Homo sapiens: one gene and its partners. The gene in region 1 interacts genetically with each later gene. Each region holds a gene or a part of one and is shown in the gene's direction. Other genes may lie near its edges. The genes, in order: SLC30A5, SEC23B, TRAPPC13, MAN2A1 and TRAPPC10.

Region 1 (3,923 bases):
ATGTGCTAGAACAAAGAATAGTACAGCAGGTAATCTTTTGTTTTTAAAGTAATTTTAATTGAGGTCATTCATACCCAAAATTGTACACCTCATAAGTTATATGGCTCAGTAGTCATTTACTATTCAGAAATATCAATCTTCCAACTCTTTTTTTTTTTTTTTTTTTGAGACAGGGTCTCACTCTGTTGCCCAGGCTGGAGTGCAGTGGCGTGATCTCGGCCCACTGCAACCTCCGCCTCCTGGGTTCAAGCAGTCTCCCTGCCTCAGCCTCCCAAGTCGCTGGGATTATAGGCACCCGTCACCATGCCCGCCTATTTTTGTTTGTTTGTTTGTATTTTTAGTAGAGATGGGGTTTCGCCATGTTGGCCAGTCTAGTCTCAAACTCCTGACCTCAGGTGATCCGCCTGCCTCGACCTCCCAAAGTGCTGGGTTTATAGGCAAGCCATCATGCCCGGCCTAATCTTCCAAATCTGTAACGGTAATATAGCTTACTTTTTACATCTAGATTTGTTTTATATCTAAAAATTGCTAAAATAAATGAAGTTTTGTGTTTAGAGGATAAGCTTTAATTAATATAAAAAAATTCATTTATGAGTTTGATTAATCTTGGTTTCCAGTAGATTATCAAAAAATAAGTTATTATAAATATATTCCTAAATTAGTAATAATCAACTTGGCAGGGTATATGCTATGTTTGGAGATAGAGGTCAGAATAGTTACTAAAGCCCTGTTCTAGATGTGCCAAATTGGAAACAATGGCTGTTTTCCTTTTCTACTGTGAATGTCAAATCAGTAATTTACTGACCTAAAAGAGTCTAATATTTTAACTAACTAAATGATGAATATTACTTCGAAGATTTATCTTGGACTACTGTAACTGTTTGTTTGTTTGTTTACTCATTCATTTTAGAGACAAGATCTCACTATGTTGCCCAGGCTGGTCTCAAACTCCTGGGCTCAAGCGATCCTCCTGCCTCAGCCTCCCTGGGCCACTGTGCCTGGCCTGTAACTATTTTAAAAATGTGACACAGGTTTAATATTCCTTATCTAAAATGCTTGGAACCAGAAGTGTTTTCGATTTGCGATTTTATTTTTTTTAATACTCGCATTACGCTTACCAGTTGAGCATCCCTAATCTGAAAATCCAAATCCAAAATGCTCCAATGAGCATTTCCTTTTAACACCATCTTGGCACTCAAAAAGTTTCAGATTTTAGAGCGTCTCAGATTTCGTATTTTCAGATTAAAGATACTCAACCCGTATCAACTATGTACAGCATATTAAGACGTGTGTACTAAATGCATTACTCTAAATGCTTCAAAATATCTGGATTTTTATAACAGGTTACAGGAATACTTAAAGATGCTGGAGTAAACAATTTAACAATTCAAGTGGAAAAGGAGGCATACTTTCAACATATGTCTGGCCTAAGTACTGGATTTCATGATGTTCTGGCTATGACAAAACAAATGGAATCCATGAAATACTGCAAAGATGGTACTTACATCATGTGAGATAACTCAAGAATTACCCCTGGAGAATAAACAATGAAGATTAAATGACTCAGTATTTGTAATATTGCCAGAAGGATAAAAATTACACATTAACTGTACAGAAACAGAGTTCCCTACTACTGGATCAAGGAATCTTTCTTGAAGGAAATTTAAATACAGAATGAAACATTAATGGTAAAAGTGGAGTAATTATTTAAATTATGTGTATAAAAGGAATCAAATTTTGAGTAAACATGATGTATTACATCATCTTCAAAAATAGATATGATGGATTCTAGTGAAGACCAAAATTACTTCTGTTTACTTTCTATCAGGAAGCATCTCCATTGTAAATATGTATTTACATGTTTATTACAAAGACCCAAATGAAAAATTTTTAGTCCATTTTTTGCATAGCCTAAAGATAAAATAGGAATAAAAGTTCTATATTTATGGATTTTCTGTATATAAAACTGGTTTCTAATTATAACTTAAGTCCATTAAGTAAAATCTGTATTGCCACTTTAAATGTAAACTAAATTATTTGGGAGAAACTTCAACCACTGATATGAGATAAGCAATGAGAATAGGGAAGTGTATAACATCACAGTTTTTGATGTATTACAAAAATCAACCACTCTATAAAATAAATTTTTTTTACTTTTGGTAATATTTGCAAATGAATAATTAATTTATTAGGGTAAAGAACTTATACTAAGTTGTGTCCATGTTATTCATTTACTTACCATGTTCCTTTAAAGTAGAATATTTCCTTTCTTGTTATATATTTGACATTCCAAGCTGCTTATCAAGCTGGTATCCAAGCAGTGGTAAGCTTTCATCCTTTCTTAGCTCCATAACGTTGTGAAACAGCCAGTTAAGAGAATCGTAAATAATTGTCAACTCACAGTTGAATTCTCTGCCTATGTAGGTAACTTTTTTCTAATTTCTGGAACATATAGATATATAAGAAATATCAAAGAATAGGTAGTTATTTCAAAGTTTAATAAGTAAAACTTGTTCATAAACATTTGAGCACCATGAAATCAAAATACCCTATAACTACTTTCTATAGTCATATCTAATTTATATTTTTTTCATTTCCAGTTGTAACTAGATATGTAGTAAAGTCTGAAAAGACTTTACCATAGACAATAACATGCAGTTTTATCAGCACCAAAGAATGTTGTCCAAAAGAAACTTTTTAATACCTGTCTTTCTATTTATAACATCTGAATATTTTCATTCTTATATTAAGAATTTTGATAAGTAGATTGAATTTAGTATGAGTACTATTTTCTTATATATACCACAATGGCAAACATGTATTATAAATCATATTTTTGTCTTACCAATTTTAATATATGAGGGGTTTTAGAAATTTGTTGTAAGTTATTTTTATATTCCTTGTCTTTTGCATATTTTTTGGCCAAAATCTTCAATACATATTAAAATTTTTGAGTGGTGGGAAAATAATTGCATATTGATGTTTTAATGCAATTTTTATACATTAAAAAATTAAGTAGATAGGTGCAATAAATATTACACCAAAGTTAAAATTGTCATTTCCCTTAGAAGACATATAAACAGCAAAAAAATTAATGTGATTGTGAGATATTAGAGTGAGAGAGAGCAGGGGCTGAAGGTTGGGGAGGTACAATTATAAAGTATGGAAACTCTAATATTGAAAGCACCAGGGTACTGTATTTCAGCTCATGCAAATCATGCAACTAGGCCAGGTGCAGTGTCTCTTGCCTGAAATCCTGGCACTTTGGGAGGCTAAAGCAAAAGGATAGCTTGAGCCCAGGAGTTTGAGAACAGCCTGAGCAACATAGCAAGATTCCATCTCTACAAAAATTTTTAAAAATTAGCTGGGGCATGGTGGCACATACCTCTTGGGAGGCTGAGGCAGGAGGATTGCTTGAACCTAGGAGGCCAAGGCTGCAGTGAGCCATGATGGCACCACTGCTCTCCAGCCTGGGTGACACAGAAAGATTTTATCTCAAAAAAAAAAAAAAAATTCATGCAACTTTAGGCAAATCAGCCTTTCTGAGGTATCTTTTTTTTTTCCTCATATATAAACTATATAAAACCTGCTCAAATTTACAGCACAGGATATGGGAACAAAAGGTATAATGTATGTGAAAATGCAGTGGAAGTTGAAAAAGGCTAAATAGGCCGGGTGCGGTGGCTCACGCCTGTAATCCCAGCACTTTGGGAGGCCGAGGTGGGCGGATCACGAGGTCAGGAGATCGAGACCATCCTGGCTAACATGGTGAAACCCTGTCTCTACTAAAAATGCAAAAAATTAGCCAGATGTGGTGGCAGGCGCCTGTAGTCCCAGCTACTCGGCAGGCTAAGGCAGGAGAATGGCGTTAACCTGGGAGGCGGAGCTGGCAGGCAGCCGAGATAGCACCACTGCACTCTAGC
Region 2 (4,145 bases), on another chromosome or scaffold:
TTAATATAGGAAAATAAATAAGTAACCTGAGAAATGCAGTTGACCCTCAGTATTCATGGAAGATTGGTTCCAGGACCTCCCTCAGATACCAGAATTCTTAGATACTCAAGTTACTAATATAAAATTACATAATATTTGCATGTAACCTTGGCACATCCTCCTATATACTTTAAATCATCTCTAGATTAGTTATAATACCTAATATAATGTAAGTACCATGTAAATAATTGTCATACTGTATGGTTTAGGGAATAATGACAAGAAAACAAGTCTGTACATGTACAGTACAGATGCATATTTTTTTCAAATATTTTCAGTCCAAGATTGGTTGAATTTATAGATGTGGAACCCACCGATACGGAGGGCCAACAGTATTCACAAAAAGTATGTAACATAATAAAATAGATAAGTCCTTATGTAAAAATGTTACATGAAAAAAAGTCAAAATAGAAACGTTTCTAAATATTCCCTGCAAAAATAAAGAACTATATGGAAAAAAACAAAATATCAATATTTGTTGTACTTGGGTACACATTTAAAAATTTTCTTTATCGAGTACCACTTACTTTTATTATTGAAATAATTACTAAAATAGCAGGGGGATCACATGACATCAGGAGTTTGAGACCAGCCTGGCCAATGTGGCGAAACCCCATCTCTACTAAACATACAAAAATTAGCTTGGAATGGCGCCAATAATCCCAGCTACTTGGGAGGCTGAGGCTGGAGAATCACTTGAACCCCGGAGGCGGAGGCTGCAGTGAGTTGAGATCGCGCCACTGCATTCCAGCCTGGGCAACAGAGCAAGACTCCCTCTCAAAAAATAAAAATAAAAAAGAAATAATTACATATATAAAAATTATATGTGTATATGTAAATATAATAAATTATATATGTATATATAAGAACTATGTATATAAATATATATGTATATGATTATATATGTATATATAAATATAAATTATATACTTATATAATATAAAATATTACTTACAAATAAATAATAAACGTATTTTTTTTTGAGATGGGGTGTCTGTCACCCAGGTTGGAGTACAGTTGTGCGATCTTGGCTCACTGCAACCTCCGCCTTCCAGGTTCAGGTGATCCTCCCACTTCAGCCTCCTGAATAGCTGGGACCACAGGCACGTGCCACTACAGCCCGGCTAATTTTTTGTGTTTTTGGTAGAGATGGGGTTTTGCCATGTTGCCCAGGCTGGCTTTGAACTCCTGGGTTCAAGTGATCTGCCTGCCTTGGCCTCCCAAAGTTCTAGGTTTACAGGCATGAGCCACTACGCCCAGCCATAATTTATATTTTGTAGTAAACTTTAAAAACTTGTATTAAATGCTGCTTTTCATATAGGTATCCGTATTCTGTCTCATCTACAGAGAATGTCTGTAGAGATTGCTAAAATACATACAAAACTGAGAATATTCAGAATTATTTTTCGTTCCAAGATCAAAAGATATCATTAAGCCTGGACAACATAGTGTGAGACCCTGTCTTTACAAAAAATAAAAAATTAGTTGGGCGTGGTGGCATGCACCTGTAGCCTCAGCTACTCAGGAGGCTGAGGTGGGAGGGTCACTTGAGCCCAGGAGGTCGAAGCTGCAGTGAGCCAGGGTCACATCACTTTACTCCAGGCTGGGTAACAGAGCAACACCCTGACTCTTAAAAAAAAAAAAGGTATCATTAATCTCCGTTCTCAATTGATGAGGAATTATTTGGAGCCTATTTTTCCTACAAAGTTGAGAATGAGTCAGAAGCAGAAAGTGGAAGTATGTCAGGAAGAAAAGGGGTGACTTACTGTGCTGGGCACCATTTGTAAATAGCCTTTGCTGTGGATACCAGGCATGGGATCAGGGTCGGGTGGAAGTGGTTGCTGTGTGGGGAGCAGGGAAGACCAATGCCATCTTTCTCTCTCTTTTTCTTCAGCCAGTACTCTTGGATAGCAGCAGCATTCTAGCTGACAGAATTTTGCTGATGGATACTTTCTTTCAAATTGTCATTTATCTTGGTGAGGTAAGATGATATTATTAATTAATTAATTTCTTTTTGTTTTTAAATTGGAGAAAAGGCATACACATTTAATGTGCACACAAGGAGAATTATTGTCCTTAACTATGGTTTTTGTTTTCTTCTCTTATTTATTAAGTTAGGTTTTTAATGACATTTGTAACCACAGTTTGGGCTTAGAAAGCACCATGGCTTTTATTCTAGTAAATCCCTGGAGTATTTGTATATTTATTAATTTTAATCATATTTGCTGTTAAGTATGGGCCAGGTGCAGTGGCTTATACCTGTAATCCCAGCACTTTGGGATGCTGAGGTGGGCAGATCACCTGAGGTCAGGAGTTCAAAACCAGCCTGACCAACATGGCAAAACCCCATCTCTACTAAAAATACAAAAGTTAGCCAGGCGTGGTGGCACACACCTGTAGTCCCATCTACTTGGGAGGCTGAGATGGGAGAATCACTTAAACCCGGGAGGTTGAGGTTGTAGTGAGCTGAGATCACACCACTGCATTCCAGCCTGGTCAACAGAGTGAAACTCCATCTCAAAAAATAAATAATAATAATAATAATATATGCTGTAAAAAAATCTCAGGTGGTTATTTTAAATCACTGTAAATTATTACCTTCGAAGTTAGGCAAAACTAGTTTTTTCTCCTCAGTAAATATTTTATACATACTGCTGTTCTTTCAGAGTTATATACATACTGCTGTTCTTTCAGAGTTAGTGTTTAGAGCTAAGGTTGTACTTTGATGAAATAACATGGCCCAGGGAACTTTACGCTGTGTCTGTGGATCCCTAGGATGGCTGTGGATAGCTTTCAGTCCATTTCTTTCTCAGTGGGGTTCATGCCCTGAGAAAGGGAATGGCTCCTCTGAATTATTTGCATCTTTATGGCAAAAAATCCTTTAATGAAGATGATGGTGATATTTATATTCAGTGATGCTTTTTCTTCTATTGTATGATCTCTACCTTCTTAAATTGGTTATTGATTTGGTTTCCTAATGGCCAACCATTAGAAATGATTTCTGATGTCGTGAAAAGATATAAATTGTGTTTCAGGATTCCTTCAGTAACTTAGGAAGTGTTAGTTTTCTAATACTCCTAAGTATTTTATAACTTTAAACTTTTTTCAGCATGTTAACACCCAGTCTGCTAGCCACTTGCACGCAAGTGCTAGGCTGTCAGTAATAGTCCTAGACTGAGAGCCGGATGACCAGCTGCTCTTCCCACTGGAACCTTTGGTATCAGTACAGTTGGCCCTCTGTATCCACGGGTTCCACCTCTGCAGATTCAATCAACTGCAGGTTAAAAATAATTTTGAAATAATAATAAAAAATAATACAAATAAAATATACAGCACAGGCCGGGTGTGGTAGTTCATGCCTGTAATCCCAGCACGTTGGGAGGCCGAGGTGGGCGGATCATCTGAGGTCAGGAGTTCAAGACCAGTCTGGCCAACATAGCGAAACCCTGTCTCTACTAAAAATACAAAAATTAGCTGGGCATGGTGGCAGACACCTGTAATCCCAGCTGCTCGGGAGGCTGAGGCAGGAGAATCGCTTGAACTCAGGAAGTGGAGGTTTCAGTGAGCTAAGATCGAGCCAGTGCACTCCAGCCTGGACGACAGAGTGAGACTCTGTCTCAAAAAACAAAACCAAAAAAACAGCACAAGAACGATTTATATAGTTTCTACATTGTATTAGATATTATAAGTAATCTAAAGATGATTTAAAGTGTATGGGAAGATGTACATCGGTTATATGAAATACTATGCCATTTTGTATGAGGGACTTGAGTATCTATGGAATTTGGTATTGGGAGGAGTGGTCTTGGAACCAATCTCACAGATACCGAGGGCCGACTGTACTAAGGATGAAGCTTTCTTTGCCTTAAGCTCATCTCCTTATCGACATTTCTTTTGCAACCCCTGATCCTGTTCATTCACTTGTTTATTGAGCACCTTCTTGTGCAAGTGAGGGGTTCTAAGGATAAAGACAGTGACATTGCTCTCACCTTCCCAAAGTCCTGAGCGTGCTGAACGCGAGTGTTCTTATGAACTTCTGGACCCTGGTGAGCTCGTGGGCATTTCCCATAGGCCAACAGTCAATCACAGCATTTAGACCTGGAAAA
Region 3 (4,145 bases), 3.5 Mb from region 1:
CTTTTGATTGGAATTATATAAACGTATATGTTTTCTGACATTTTTGTAATTTCTACACAGAATTAATATTACTTGAAGAAACACTTGGCCGGGCATGGTGGCTCATGCCTGTAATCCCAGCACTTTGGGAGGCCAAGGTAGGCAGATCACTCGAGGTCAGGAGTTAGGGACCAGCCTGGCCAACATGGTGAAACCCCGTCTCTACTAAAAATACAAAAAAAAAAAAAATAACCAGGCATGGTGGTGCATTCCTGTAATCCCAACTACTCAGGAGGCTGAGGCAGGAGAATCTCTTGAACCTGGGAGATAGAGGTTGCAGTGAGCCGAGATCGCACCACTACACTCCAGCCTGGGTGACAGAGTAAGCCTGTCTCAAAAAAAAAACAAAAAACACTTACTGAGTTTCCAAAGTTAATATTTTGTTGATATTGTTTATGGTGAAATCACTTAGAATTTTTTTAAAGCCTTATGCTCCTAATACTCTTTAAGCTTTAAAAATTATATTTTCCAGTTTTTCTATAATGAATGCATATTGTATTTACATTTAATTTTTATAATTCATAGGTTGTAAATAAATGGTGCTTATTTTGTAACATTACAATTCTTAATAAATCACTGATGTGTGATAACCTTAGGAAGTATGTAGTATTATATTTAGGAAGTATTTAGGTTATATTTTATGTTAGTATAAAATGGATGAATGTCATACACTAGACTTGAGAATATTAACCCTAAGCAGTATTAATGTTTTGTTTTCTTTTACTTTTTTACTTCACAGTGATGCGGCTGACTAAGCCTACTTTATTCACCAATATCCCAGTAACATGTGAAGAGAAAGACTTACCTGGTATGGCACATGCTTTCCTCTATTTGCACCTAGGGAAAGGTTGAAACCTGAATTGCCTGCATTACCTTGGACTAAGCCTAGCCCTGTAAATTTTATGCTAACCATTTGCTGGATTCTTTGTTGCCTATTTTTGTATCATGTGAAAGGTGGCCATCTGAGTAACAGGCCTTACTTATACTCTACAAGTCCAAATTATGTTGATATCCTATGGCAGTATGAGACAGTTTAAGATACATTCATATTCATAATACTATTAAAATTGCCTTTATCCTCAAATGTTGCATCAATGTATGTATTAGCATTCCCTTTTTTTTTTAAGAATTATTGGGGCTTTCTCTAGTATATTTTCTATCTCATGACGTACATTTTTCTTTGTTTCTAAAGTTTCCATTCCCTGTGAGATCAGAATTTTTTTGACATGCTTTGTTGTATTAAAATCTAGAAGTTAGACTTTTTAAATATCATCTTTGTCAAGAGGTTGTTTTTTAAAATATCTCTCCCAGCTATTTCTTTATATAAGTAAAAGTTATTTAAAGGGTAGATGTTAGAATTTTATGTTTTTCTCTTCATTCAGGAGATCTCTTTAACCAGCTGATGAGAGATGATCCTTCAACCGTTAATGGTGCAGAAGTTTTAATGTTGGGAGAAATGCTGACTTTACCACAGAATTTTGGGTAAGAATGACATATTCACATAAGAAACCTTGTAAAGCCATTACAAATTATGTTTTCAAAACAGAACCATGGGATGGGGAAATGCTCATGATACATTTACCTTTTTTTTTTTTTTTCTGAGATGGAGTCTCGCTCTATTGCCCAGGCTGGAGTACAGTGGTGCCATTTGAGCTCAGTGCAACCTCCACCTCCTGGGTTCAAGCAATTCTCGTGCCTCAGCCTTCCGAGTAGCTGGGATTACAGGCGTGCGCACCGCTCTGGCTAATTTTTGTGTTTTTATTGGAGACCGTGTTTTGCTATGTTAGCCAGGCTGACCTTGAACTCCTGACATCAGGTGATCCACCCGCCTCAGCCTCCCAAAGTGCTTGGATTGCAGGCATGAGCCACCACGCCTAGGACATGATACATTTGAGGGGCAAAAATATTATTAAAAAATCATACTATGTGATTATGGCTTTCTGTTATTAAAAAAAAAAGATATATACCAAAATAAAATGTTAATAGTGGTTCCTAGCATAATAGAATTTTAACTTTCTTCTTTAGATCTTACTATATTTTGTAATGGCCACATAGTCTTTTAACTACTAATGTAAACATCTTTTTCAGAAGCCAGTCTTTGTTTTTTTGCATCATAGTCCTCTCCCAAAATGAGTTATCAGACTTGTCAGCTAATTAGGAACTCTAAATTTATTTCTTCTGTTATCCTTAGCTGTATTATTATTCTAGATTAATAATAAGGTAGAAGCCCCTGGTTCCACTCTGTTTGCAACAGACAGAATTTGAGACAAAAAGAAATTTTACAGATTGTTTTTATAGTTTTACAGAATGTGGTCATTGACTAGTGTCTTGAAAAACTGGGAAATATATTCATGTAAAAAGTATAAAACTAAAATAAAACCACTGGTGATTTTTATTCAAGTAACCTAGGAAATAAAATAAATTGGTAAAAATACCCCAATATCAGTAACTTAGATCTCTTCTAGATTCAGGGAATAAGTTATTTCAAGAATGGAAACTTGGCTCTCTCTAACCTATTCAGATACAAATCCTAAGACTTTAGCATAGGTCTAATTTCAATGAGTCTTATCTCTAGTGAGGTTGGCATTTTGTACAGTAGTCAAAGGCCAAGATATATCATGTTCTATAGATTACGTCTGTATTTTGAATTGCACTAGGTAATGAATGAGTGGCCTAGTGTGAACAAAGGAATGTTGAAGCAGTATTTCACCAGATTTCTATCCTTCAGTAAATGTTTCTCCATTTGAAGTTCTTAGTGATTCTCAAACAGATTATTTAATGTAAAACCTGATGGGCACAGTGGCTCACGCCTGTAATCCCAGCACTTTGAGAGACTGAGGCGGGCGGATCATGAGATCAGGAGATCGAGACCATCATGGCTAACATGGTGAAACCCCGTCTCTACTAAAAATACAAAAAATTAGCTAGGCGTGGTGGTGGGTGCCTGTAGTCTCAGCTACTCGGGAGGCTGAGGCAGGAGAATGGGGTGAACATGGGAGGCGGAGTTTGCAGTGAGCCTAGATCGTGCCACTGCACTCCAGCCTGGGTGACAGAGCGAGACTCTGTCTCAAAAAAAAAAAAAAAGAAAAAAAACCTGAATGGATTTCTGCCTAAATACTTATTTTATTTTACAGGAATATATTTTTGGGAGAGACCTTTTCCAGTTATATCAGCGTTCATAATGATAGCAATCAAGTTGTAAAAGACATATTAGTAAAAGTAAGTAACATTCTTACTTGGGATGTATTTTAGTCTTTAACAAAGGTTTTTTTTTAGGCCGGGCATGGTGGCTCATGCCTGTAATCCTAGCACTTTAGGAGGCTGAAGCAGGTGGATCACCTGAGGTCAGGAGTTCAAGACCAGCCTGGCCAACATGGTGAAACCCCATCTCTACTAAAAATACAAAAATTAGCCAGGTGTGGTGGTGCACACCTGTAGTCCCAGCTACTCGGGAGGCTAAGGCAGGAGAGGCTAAGGCTTGAACCCGGGAGGTGAAGGTTGCAGTGAGCCAAGATCACGCCACTGCACTCCAGCCTGGGTGACAGAGTTAGACTCCATCTCAAAAAAAAAAAAAAGAAAAAAAGGTTTTTTTATATCTATTATGTTTTTGGCACTTCATTAAATGCACGTTTGATACAATAATTTTTAATTGTCATTAACAAGCACTAATGAATGCCTACAGTTATAAAGTATTATGTTAGGCATGAAAACATTTTTCCTATTCCACAAGATTTGTGATTGCTTGGGTGAGAAAATGTACTAGTCAAAGCTAAATAGCAGTTTAGTATTTGTTAATGTATGTCATTAACATGGAAGATGAAAGATCACTGGAGATTATGTCAATCTGGAAGGTTTCTTGGGGGAGAGGGAATGCGAAGAGGATCTTGAAAGAATGGGAGGATACAGATAACAAGGCAAGGGAGACATGGTAATCAGAGGCAGAGACATAGTGGTACACATGTGTTCTTTTAACAGTGAACAAATTTCACTTGGTAAGAGTCCGTAAGGTGGTACAGAGGAATAGTAGCTGTATTAGTCCATTTTCATGCTGCTGATAAAGTCATACCCAAGACTGGGCAATTTACCAAAGAAAGAGGTTTAATGGA
Region 4 (4,145 bases), about 41 Mb from region 1:
CTCCTTAATACAACAACCATAACAGCAAACTAAGAAACTGTGATTCCCAAGTGATTTTTCCCGAACCGTATTCCGTATTAATAGGATAAGTGTATGTTTGGAAATTAGAGGCCCTGAAAAAAATCCTGTATTAATGAAATGTTGAAACGTTTAGAATTTTGTTTTACCCAATGTTTCCCAAATGTACTGTGTTTCATTTTGTTTTGTTTTAAGCAAAGCAGCTCTATACATCCTGAGAAAACATTTGGGGAGTGATATACTGTAGTCTTTAGTACTCATCTTATGAGAAGGCTGCATGTGTGCCTTTAGGATGCAGACATTGATCCTGGCTTTCACTCAGTTTAATTAGGACTCTTTAATACATCTGGTTTTAGGTGGTGGAGAACATGACTTTCACTCTGCAGATTCAGGCTGCCTAATAAAGATAGCCCTGTAGACAATAGAAAGGAACTTAGATTGAGGGTCTTGCTGTCATAACTGAACCATATTCGTATGGTGTTTTAGTATGGTGAAAACACTTAATGCTGTCTAGGAAAACATTTGAATATGTTGGGAAGTTTAGTTAGATTATGGCATGAACTCAAATCCATAAGATTTTAGCATTAAAATTATAGATTTGCCATGTAAATGTATTTAATTAATAACATTGATCATGATCACTTACATCTCTGAAGGAAATATTAATGCTCTGCAAAAAAGAAGTTAACTTCTTTTATAGGTTTTCTTGTTGTTGTTGCATGACAACAAAAATGTCTTCAAGGCATAGATCCAAAGTTGCTTTCTGTATTGGAAAAAATAATATAATTGAAAACGTGATTAGCGAGGAGTTTCTACGTACTTCTCCAATATGAATTTGCCTATGGATGCCTGGTCTGTAGAGCCTTCAAGAAACGTAACTGAATTAGGAAAAAAAAAAAAAAATCTTCAAGCAAGTTCTTTTTCCATGAGTAATGCTTCAGCAGTAGCGGATGTATTTCAGAATTGGTCTGGAATCAGTAGACTTTTGATTCCTTAGACATAAAAATACAATTTGAATATAGTTAGTAATTTCAGTGACCAAAAAATTTAACAGGGATAAAGACAATTTCATTATTCACATCTGTCAAAAACTCTTGTTCTGGTTCTCTTGAACAAGAACATGAAACTAAATTAAACAAAACATCTATTTTAATTCTTGGGGTATGACTTGTATACGAATTGAATTTTCTTGTGAGCTGAATTATCTCATGTTTTTATTCATTGTTAAAACCCTTGTTAGAGCTTTTTCTAAAGTAGCAAATCATTGTTTTTTTGATAGAATGCTTCAAAGTTATTGGGGTGATCCTACTGGATATTATTATTTGGTGCGATATTCATAGAAAGTATACATAGTTTGATTATGTTTATGTGTTTCAGGTGTGTCCAGAAAGCTTTCGGTTTTAAATGGATTCTTGTCAGTTATATCTTCTGATGTACTTAGTTCTAGGGGAAAAAAGAGCAGGTTTGTCATAGATTCATTATAGGTTTCACTTTGAATACAAGATGAAGATACTGGTGGTTTGGCTATTAGTAATGAAACTGAAAATATTGTATGCAGATTTTTAAATTGTTTCTCAGACTAATAAAATTTTTGATTTACAGACTTTTTCATTCGTTAATGGTTTTGGAGAAGATAATTGGAAATTCTGCATTTCTTCTTATTTTGAAGGACAAACTCACATACGACTCTTACTCTCCTGATACCTTCCTGGAGATGGTTAGTAATTTCATCTATGGTCATCATAAAAATGTGTAATTCCATTGTTCTTGCATTAGCAAAGAGGATGAGAAGCTTAATGAAAAAAGACATTGAAATATAATTTTTTGTACATTATTTGAAAGAATTTTTATCACTTAATATAAATTACCTGTATGTTCATCTTTTCTATAAATATTTCAAAGTATGTGAAATATGTAGGGTTTTAGAATACTATTAAGATGTTAGTAAGGCAACTGGGGCATTATAACTAGTTGTTTTGCTTGGCTTTAATTAGAAACCCCTTGATATTTAACTTTTTATAAGTCCTTAATCTGTTCCTCCTAAACTTGAATTTGAATGGTCTTCTGGTTTCAGGATGAGTCCATGGAGTGTTAAGTAAAATTAAAAAATTACTGTTCATTTTTATAGGATTTGAAACAAAAATCACAAGATTCTCTGCCACAAAAAAATATAATAAGGCTGAGTGCGGAGCCAAGGTAAATTCATAATTTCTTACAAATGTTTACCACTTTCTGGCTTAATAGTTTTTGGTTTTATGGTTCTGGTTTTTAGTTAGCGTATATTTTGAGGCAATCAATTTATTAATTAAAAAACTCCTAAAAAATGGATTTTCTTTCATGACTGTGTTATGCTCAGTGCCAATAGCTAACACAGTGCTTAGTATATTGACTGCTGAATAAATTATTATAACAATATTTCTCACAGATATAAGGTATAGCATGATAAATATATAGCTTATAAAACATTTTCTTATCTCTATAAAATTTTCAGATTATATCCTTTCTTGATTAACCTTTCATTTAACTACCTTGTTTTCATTAATCCCTGATCCTATTTTTATATGAAAGAAGAAACTTTATTATTATTGGAAGATCAAGGTTTCTACTGTAAATTGTTTATTAGATAACTGTCATTTTGCTGGTGAAACAGCCTTGTTTTAGCACTATTGATTTATGCTAAAGTAAATGGGAAGGGTGTTCAGTGACCTTAAACCAGGGCATTTAATTGGTGGCTACCTAATAATTATAAAGAAATGCATTATGTTTTATTGGTATTTCTTTAAACAGCAAGGTATCTGTTTTTAATAACCAAATATTTGTTGGTCATTTCCTAGTTGACCCAGGCACACAGTGGTTATTTTTTGTAATATAACCTTTAACTGTCAGAATCAAGATATTTAGTACCTCCTCTTGCCAATTATAGGATAAAACAATAATTTCAAAGAGTAATTCATTATTTCAACTAAATATATTTTATTAAAATTATTTAAAAATAAATGGAATGAATGTAAAAAGAATTTATAGTTGCTAGTAAAGTTGAGACTTTTTGTTAAGCATAGACTAAAGTCTTAGTTGTCTAAATTTCTTTAGTAAGTAGAGACATAAGGTGTATACAGCTTATTCCTTAGAACGAGATAATAAGTTTTTTTATTTTAGTAATACTAATGTTCTCTGTAACACGGCAGAAGCCTTAGGAGCTTTCAGATTGCCAGGTCATAGTTAGGATGAAAGGATAATGACACTGAAAGAAATATTTCTTATAAAATTACAAAATGTTTTCTTTGTCTTAAAATAAGTTATGTTTTGATGCATTTGGGGTTATATGCCTGTTCCTTAAATATTGTGTTCCTAGTAAACTCTGGCATTAGTAAATCTATTTGGCTTTAGGCATAGTTCTCTCATCTATTAACTTTTCTTTCTTTTTATATTTTGGTGGAGGAAGATCTTTGTTTTTGCTGGTTATAAGAATAATATATGCTGATATAAGTGATTTGTGCCCCATCTCTGGGTGCTCTTATGCTGGGTGCAGTGAGGCAGGGCTGGAACCATAATAGGTCAGAAGAAAAGATGTTCCCTTTAGTTTATCTCCTTCCTTCACTGTCTTTGCCTTAGCAAACAATAATTGATAATTTTGCCTTTCTAATGCCAGAAGAAGAAAGTTAGGAAATGTAGTATATTAATGAAAGAGAAAAATATTTTTAAGCTTTCATATTGAGGAGTTTTAACTACAGGTAAACATAAATGGAATTTCGGGGGCTATTAGTAAAATGATTGCTTTTTGATATTTCTTTTTAAATAGTTTTTATTTAAATAGTATAGGGTTTATCTTCCTATTACTTCTTTACAGTTCTTTTTTTATCAAATATTGACTTCCTATTTCTGTAGGTTGGTAAATTAGGAATACTTCTGATTGGCAGATTCTTATTTGTTTTTATGCTTATTATCCATTTTATAGGTTAGGGCTTCTTAGATTTTAGGTTTTAAAATCTCTATTTTACTTGTTAGCTGCAAATTATTTTAGTTACTGATCTGTCAGTAAAAATAGATGAACAATGAAGGAATGATAGTGGCCTTTAAAATGGAAGAATTTGATTGTTTTATTTAGCAGGTACTGAAAGTAAAATAAT
Region 5 (4,145 bases), on another chromosome or scaffold:
TTTGTGATCTCTCAGGGAGGGCTTGGAGCATCAGAACTCTTTCAAGCTCACAGTGGCAAGTGTAAGTTTTCCAAAATTCTGATTTTTGCTTAAAGTCTCAGATGGCATCATTGGCAGCAAATAGTCGTGTTGTTTTCTTTGAAGTGACAGGCTTACATCATTCATTTTTAATCAGACGTCTACCAAATACCCAACACTGAATAACTAGCTTCCCCAGCGCTCTTGCAAGTGAAAAGGGCGTTCTGTGAAAACAGCGGCTATTTCAGCTCGCAGCACCGAGCGCTCCCCGTGTGCTTTCCCTGAGCCAGCTGTCATTCTGCAGCAGAGACCCAGAGAATGTCAAGAACACAAGCACTCAAGAATGGAAATAACTCAAACGTCCTTCAGCTCGAGAGCGGTTAAACTGGCACATCTGATTCCTCCTCAGCAGTGAAACAGAAGGGACTGTTGACACACGCAGTGCTGTGGTTGGATCTCAAGGGCATTATACTAAGAGAAAAACGCCAGTCCTATAAGGAGGTGTACTGTGTGATTCCATTTCTAAATGACATCCTCAAAATGCCAGCCTCAGAAGGAGAGCGGGTCAGTGTTCCACGGAGCAGTGGGAGGCAGCAGGAGGCCGTCCTCTGTGGTAATGGAGAGTTCTGGGCCAGGGCCGCTGTGGTTGTTACACGAATCTACACATGTGACAAATGCCATAGAATTAGACCCAAAGAATGCCTGCGAAAGCTGCTGAAATCCAGTGGGGTCTGCAGCCTGGTTCACTCTGTAGTGAAATCCAGTGGGGTCTGCAGCCTGGTTCTATCTGTATTGAAATCCAGTGGGGTCTGCAGCCTGGTCCACTCTGTAGTGAAATCCAGTGTGGTCTGCAGCCTGGTTCTATCTGTATTGAAATCCAGTGGGGTCTGCAGCCTGGTCCACTCTGTAGTGAAATCCAGTGGGGTCTGCAGCCTGGTTCTAGCTGTATTGAAATCCAGTGGGGTCTGCAGCCTGGTCCACTCTGTAGTGAAATCCAGTGGGGTCTGCAGCCTGGTTCTATCTGTATTGAAATCCAGTGGGGTCTGCAGCCTGGTTCACTCTGTAGTGAAATCCAGTGGGGTCTGCAGCCTGGGTCACTGTATGGTACCAGTGTCAGCTTCCTGTGTTACACGAGATGGCACAGTTGGGTGAAGCTGGTGATGAAGGTATGTGACCCCTCTACTACTTTTACAACTTCTTGTGAGTCTATAAACATTTCACAATTAAAAAAAAGTCTACTCAGGAGCTGAATTTAATAAAATGAGCACTTTTGACTGCTTTGTGAAGCGTGGCATTTTTTTTTTTGTTTTTTTGCTGTGAGTTCATGGTAGTAAAGAACATGAGTGACATGACTGCGCAGTCTGGCCCGAGTTCATGCCATTGTGGTTGCCCCAGCAGCGCGAGGTCAGCAGCGTAGAAAGGCAGCAGTGTGAAAGCTATGAGCTTGCGGGTGCCCTGAGAGCCACACTCTGAGAACTGTCACTCCTTTGCCTTCCTCCTGACACTCCTAGGGCCTCTGCATGTCCTGTAGTAGCTCCTGTCCTCAAAGGTCCCCCATCCCCAACTACAGGATGTCCACCTCCCTGAGCCCTTCTCTGCTGCTCGTGGCCTTCTGGTCACTCACTCCCCCTGGGCGGTTGCTCGGTATCCTCATGATGGGAAGCTGTGACCTCTTTACCAGGTCTACTGCTACTGGATGGCAAGGATCCTGTCTTGCTTACTTTCATATCTCCAGGGCTAGTCCCAGTGAATGATCACTTAAGTGTTTGAATTGCATTGAATTACATGATGGTTGTGTTTTAATAATTAATGTTAATAATAACACCTGCCATATATTAAGACACTACCATGTCCCAGGAGTGGTACTAAGTGCTTTACATACAAGGGGTCTTCAAAAAAATCATGGAAGATACGTTATGAAAAAACTATGCATGGATTTCAACACTTTTTGCACCAAAATAAGCTCCTACTCACTGAGCAGGATCTAGTTTGAGGCACTAAGAAGGATAAGACATCAGTTTTAAAAGAGCCCCTATCAGAGCAACATGAATTCTGCTAAAATTAAATCAAGAACCAACATTGGCCGGGTGCAGTGGCTCACGCCTGTAATCCCAGCACTTTGGGGGGCTGAGGCAGGCGGATCACCTGAGGTCAGGAGTTCAAGATCAGCCTGGCTAATATGGCGAAACCCCATCTCTACTAAGAATACAAAAATTAGCTGGGCGTGGTGGCAGGCGCCTATAAGCCCAGCTACTTGGGAGGCTGAGGCAGGAGAATTGCCTGAACCCAGGAGGCGGAGGTTGCAGTGAGCCAAAATTGCGCCACTGCACTCCAGCCTGGGCAACGAGCAAAACTCCGCCTCAACAACAACAACAACAACAAAACAACCAACATCAAATTTATGGTGAAGCTTGGGTGGAAGAATGGTGAAATCATTGATGCTTTATGAAAAGTTTATGAAATTCTTTGGACAGTGCCCCAAAGAATTAGTAGTTTGCAAATGGATATCTTGTTTTAAGAAGGGACGAGATGATGCTGAAGATTAAGGCCATAGCAAGCAGACCATCCACATCCATTTTCAAGGAAAAAATTCACCTTGTTCATGCCCTAATTGGAGGGAACTGACAACAGCAGAAATGACAGCCAACACCGCAGACATCTGAACTGGTTCAGCTTATGCAATTACGCCTGAAGGGTGAGCAAGCGTTCCACTCAGTGGGTGCCAAAACCCTAGTACCCAGGTCCGTGGCCGACCAGAGCAGAGCTTCCCATGGAAACTTCAAACACACGGGATCAAGATCCTGAAGCATTTACTCAAAGAACCATAACAGGAGATGCAGTGTGGCCTTCCCAGTACCATCCTGAAGACAAAGCAGACACGGCAATGGCTACCAAGAGGTGGGGTGGCCCCACCAAAGCAGAAGCAGACTGGTCAAGAGCAGAGGCCACAGCAACAGGTTTTTGGGATACTCAAGGCATTTTGCTTGTTGACTTTCTGGAGAGTCAAAGGACAGCAGCGTCTGTGTATTATGAGATTGTTTTGAGGAAGATAGCAAGAGCTTTGGTAGAAAAACCCCTGGGGAAGCTTCACCAGAGAGTCCTCCTCCACCACGACAAAGCTCCTGCTCATTCCTCTAACAAGCCCAACTTCGTGAGGGTTTCTATGGGAAATCATGAGGCATCCACCTTGTGGACCTGATTCGGCTCCTTCTGACTGATTTTGGTTTCCTGATCTTAAGAAGTCTTTAAAAGGCACCCATTTTTATTCAGCTAATAATGTAGAGAAAGACTGCGTTGACATGGCTAAATTCTCAGGCCTCCCAGTTCTTCAGGGATGGACTAAATGGCATCGTAAGCAATGGCATCATTGCTTACAAACATGTCTTGACCTTGGTGGGGCTTATGTTGAGAAATAAAGCTTATATTTTCTGTTTTCATCTTTGGATTCCATTTTTGCATGAACTTTTTGTAGTTCCCTCATACGTATTCTCTTTCCATCCTTAAAAAGCAGCTCTGTGAGGCTGGTGGTGGTCTCAGCACTATACAGCGGTCATTGAGCCTGGAGGCCTTGGGGTGCTCTTCTGAGTGGCAGAGTTGGCTTCAGACCCAGTGGTCTTGGATACTGCCACTTACCAGACAGAACCCATTAACTGCCAAAGTCACCATACTGTGGAAGATGACACAAAAATTTGAAAACAAAATTAAATCATTTATTAACCTCACAGGAAAAATGCAGTTTTCTGTACACGTCCAGCATAATTCATTCTAATCCAGAACTAATTGAAATTGGACTCAATGAAATAGGGGTTGCCACCGTGAAAGTGCATGGCTTTATCTTCAGGCGCAGCTACAAGGCACTGGGCTCTGTGTCCGCAGTGTTTTGTCAGACAGCGTTGGGTGAGAGGATTGGGTAACGACGGCCGTGACTCTCGCCTGAGTACTGGAAGGCCCGTCCTGGATGACACATCGCTTCCTCTCGTTTCAGTTGTCGACAACAGTAGCAACTGGGCAGTGTGTGGGAAAAGCTGCGGTGTCATCTCCATGCCAGTGGCTGCTCGGGCCACTCACAGGGTCCACATGGAAGTGATGCCGCTCTTCGCCGGGTATCTCCCCCTGCCCGACGTCAG

The links.
Region 2: changes in SLC30A5 (region 1) and SEC23B together harm fitness less than expected from each alone (positive genetic interaction), as found in Homo sapiens cells (one large-scale study listed by BioGRID).
Region 3: changes in SLC30A5 (region 1) and TRAPPC13 together harm fitness more than expected from each alone (negative genetic interaction), as found in Homo sapiens cells (one large-scale study listed by BioGRID).
Region 4: changes in SLC30A5 (region 1) and MAN2A1 together harm fitness more than expected from each alone (negative genetic interaction), as found in Homo sapiens cells (one large-scale study listed by BioGRID).
Region 5: changes in SLC30A5 (region 1) and TRAPPC10 together harm fitness more than expected from each alone (negative genetic interaction), as found in Homo sapiens cells (one large-scale study listed by BioGRID).

What each region holds. Positions count from the first base shown.
Region 1 is NC_000005.10:69,128,104-69,132,026, forward strand, and holds the end of SLC30A5 (proton-coupled zinc antiporter SLC30A5), read left to right. Parts: coding exon 1-29; intron 30-1,343; coding exon 1,344-1,514; 3' UTR 1,515-2,966; downstream 2,967-3,923. UniProt on the Homo sapiens protein: Together with SLC30A6 forms a functional proton-coupled zinc ion antiporter mediating zinc entry into the lumen of organelles along the secretory pathway.
Region 2 is NC_000020.11:18,549,156-18,553,300, forward strand, and holds part of SEC23B (protein transport protein Sec23B), read left to right. Parts: intron 1-1,933; coding exon 1,934-2,020; intron 2,021-4,145. UniProt on the Homo sapiens protein: Component of the coat protein complex II (COPII) which promotes the formation of transport vesicles from the endoplasmic reticulum (ER).
Region 3 is NC_000005.10:65,634,523-65,638,667, forward strand, and holds part of TRAPPC13 (trafficking protein particle complex subunit 13), read left to right. Parts: intron 1-778; coding exon 779-847; intron 848-1,421; coding exon 1,422-1,521; intron 1,522-3,173; coding exon 3,174-3,258; intron 3,259-4,145.
Region 4 is NC_000005.10:109,787,314-109,791,458, forward strand, and holds part of MAN2A1 (alpha-mannosidase 2), read left to right. Parts: intron 1-1,620; coding exon 1,621-1,735; intron 1,736-2,146; coding exon 2,147-2,214; intron 2,215-4,145. UniProt on the Homo sapiens protein: Catalyzes the first committed step in the biosynthesis of complex N-glycans. It controls conversion of high mannose to complex N-glycans; the final hydrolytic step in the N-glycan maturation pathway.
Region 5 is NC_000021.9:44,098,775-44,102,919, forward strand, and holds part of TRAPPC10 (trafficking protein particle complex subunit 10), read left to right. Parts: exon of another isoform or gene 1-305; intron 306-322; coding exon of another isoform or gene 323-402; exon of another isoform or gene 403-1,292; intron 1,293-4,003; coding exon 4,004-4,145. UniProt on the Homo sapiens protein: Specific subunit of the TRAPP (transport protein particle) II complex, a highly conserved vesicle tethering complex that functions in late Golgi trafficking as a membrane tether.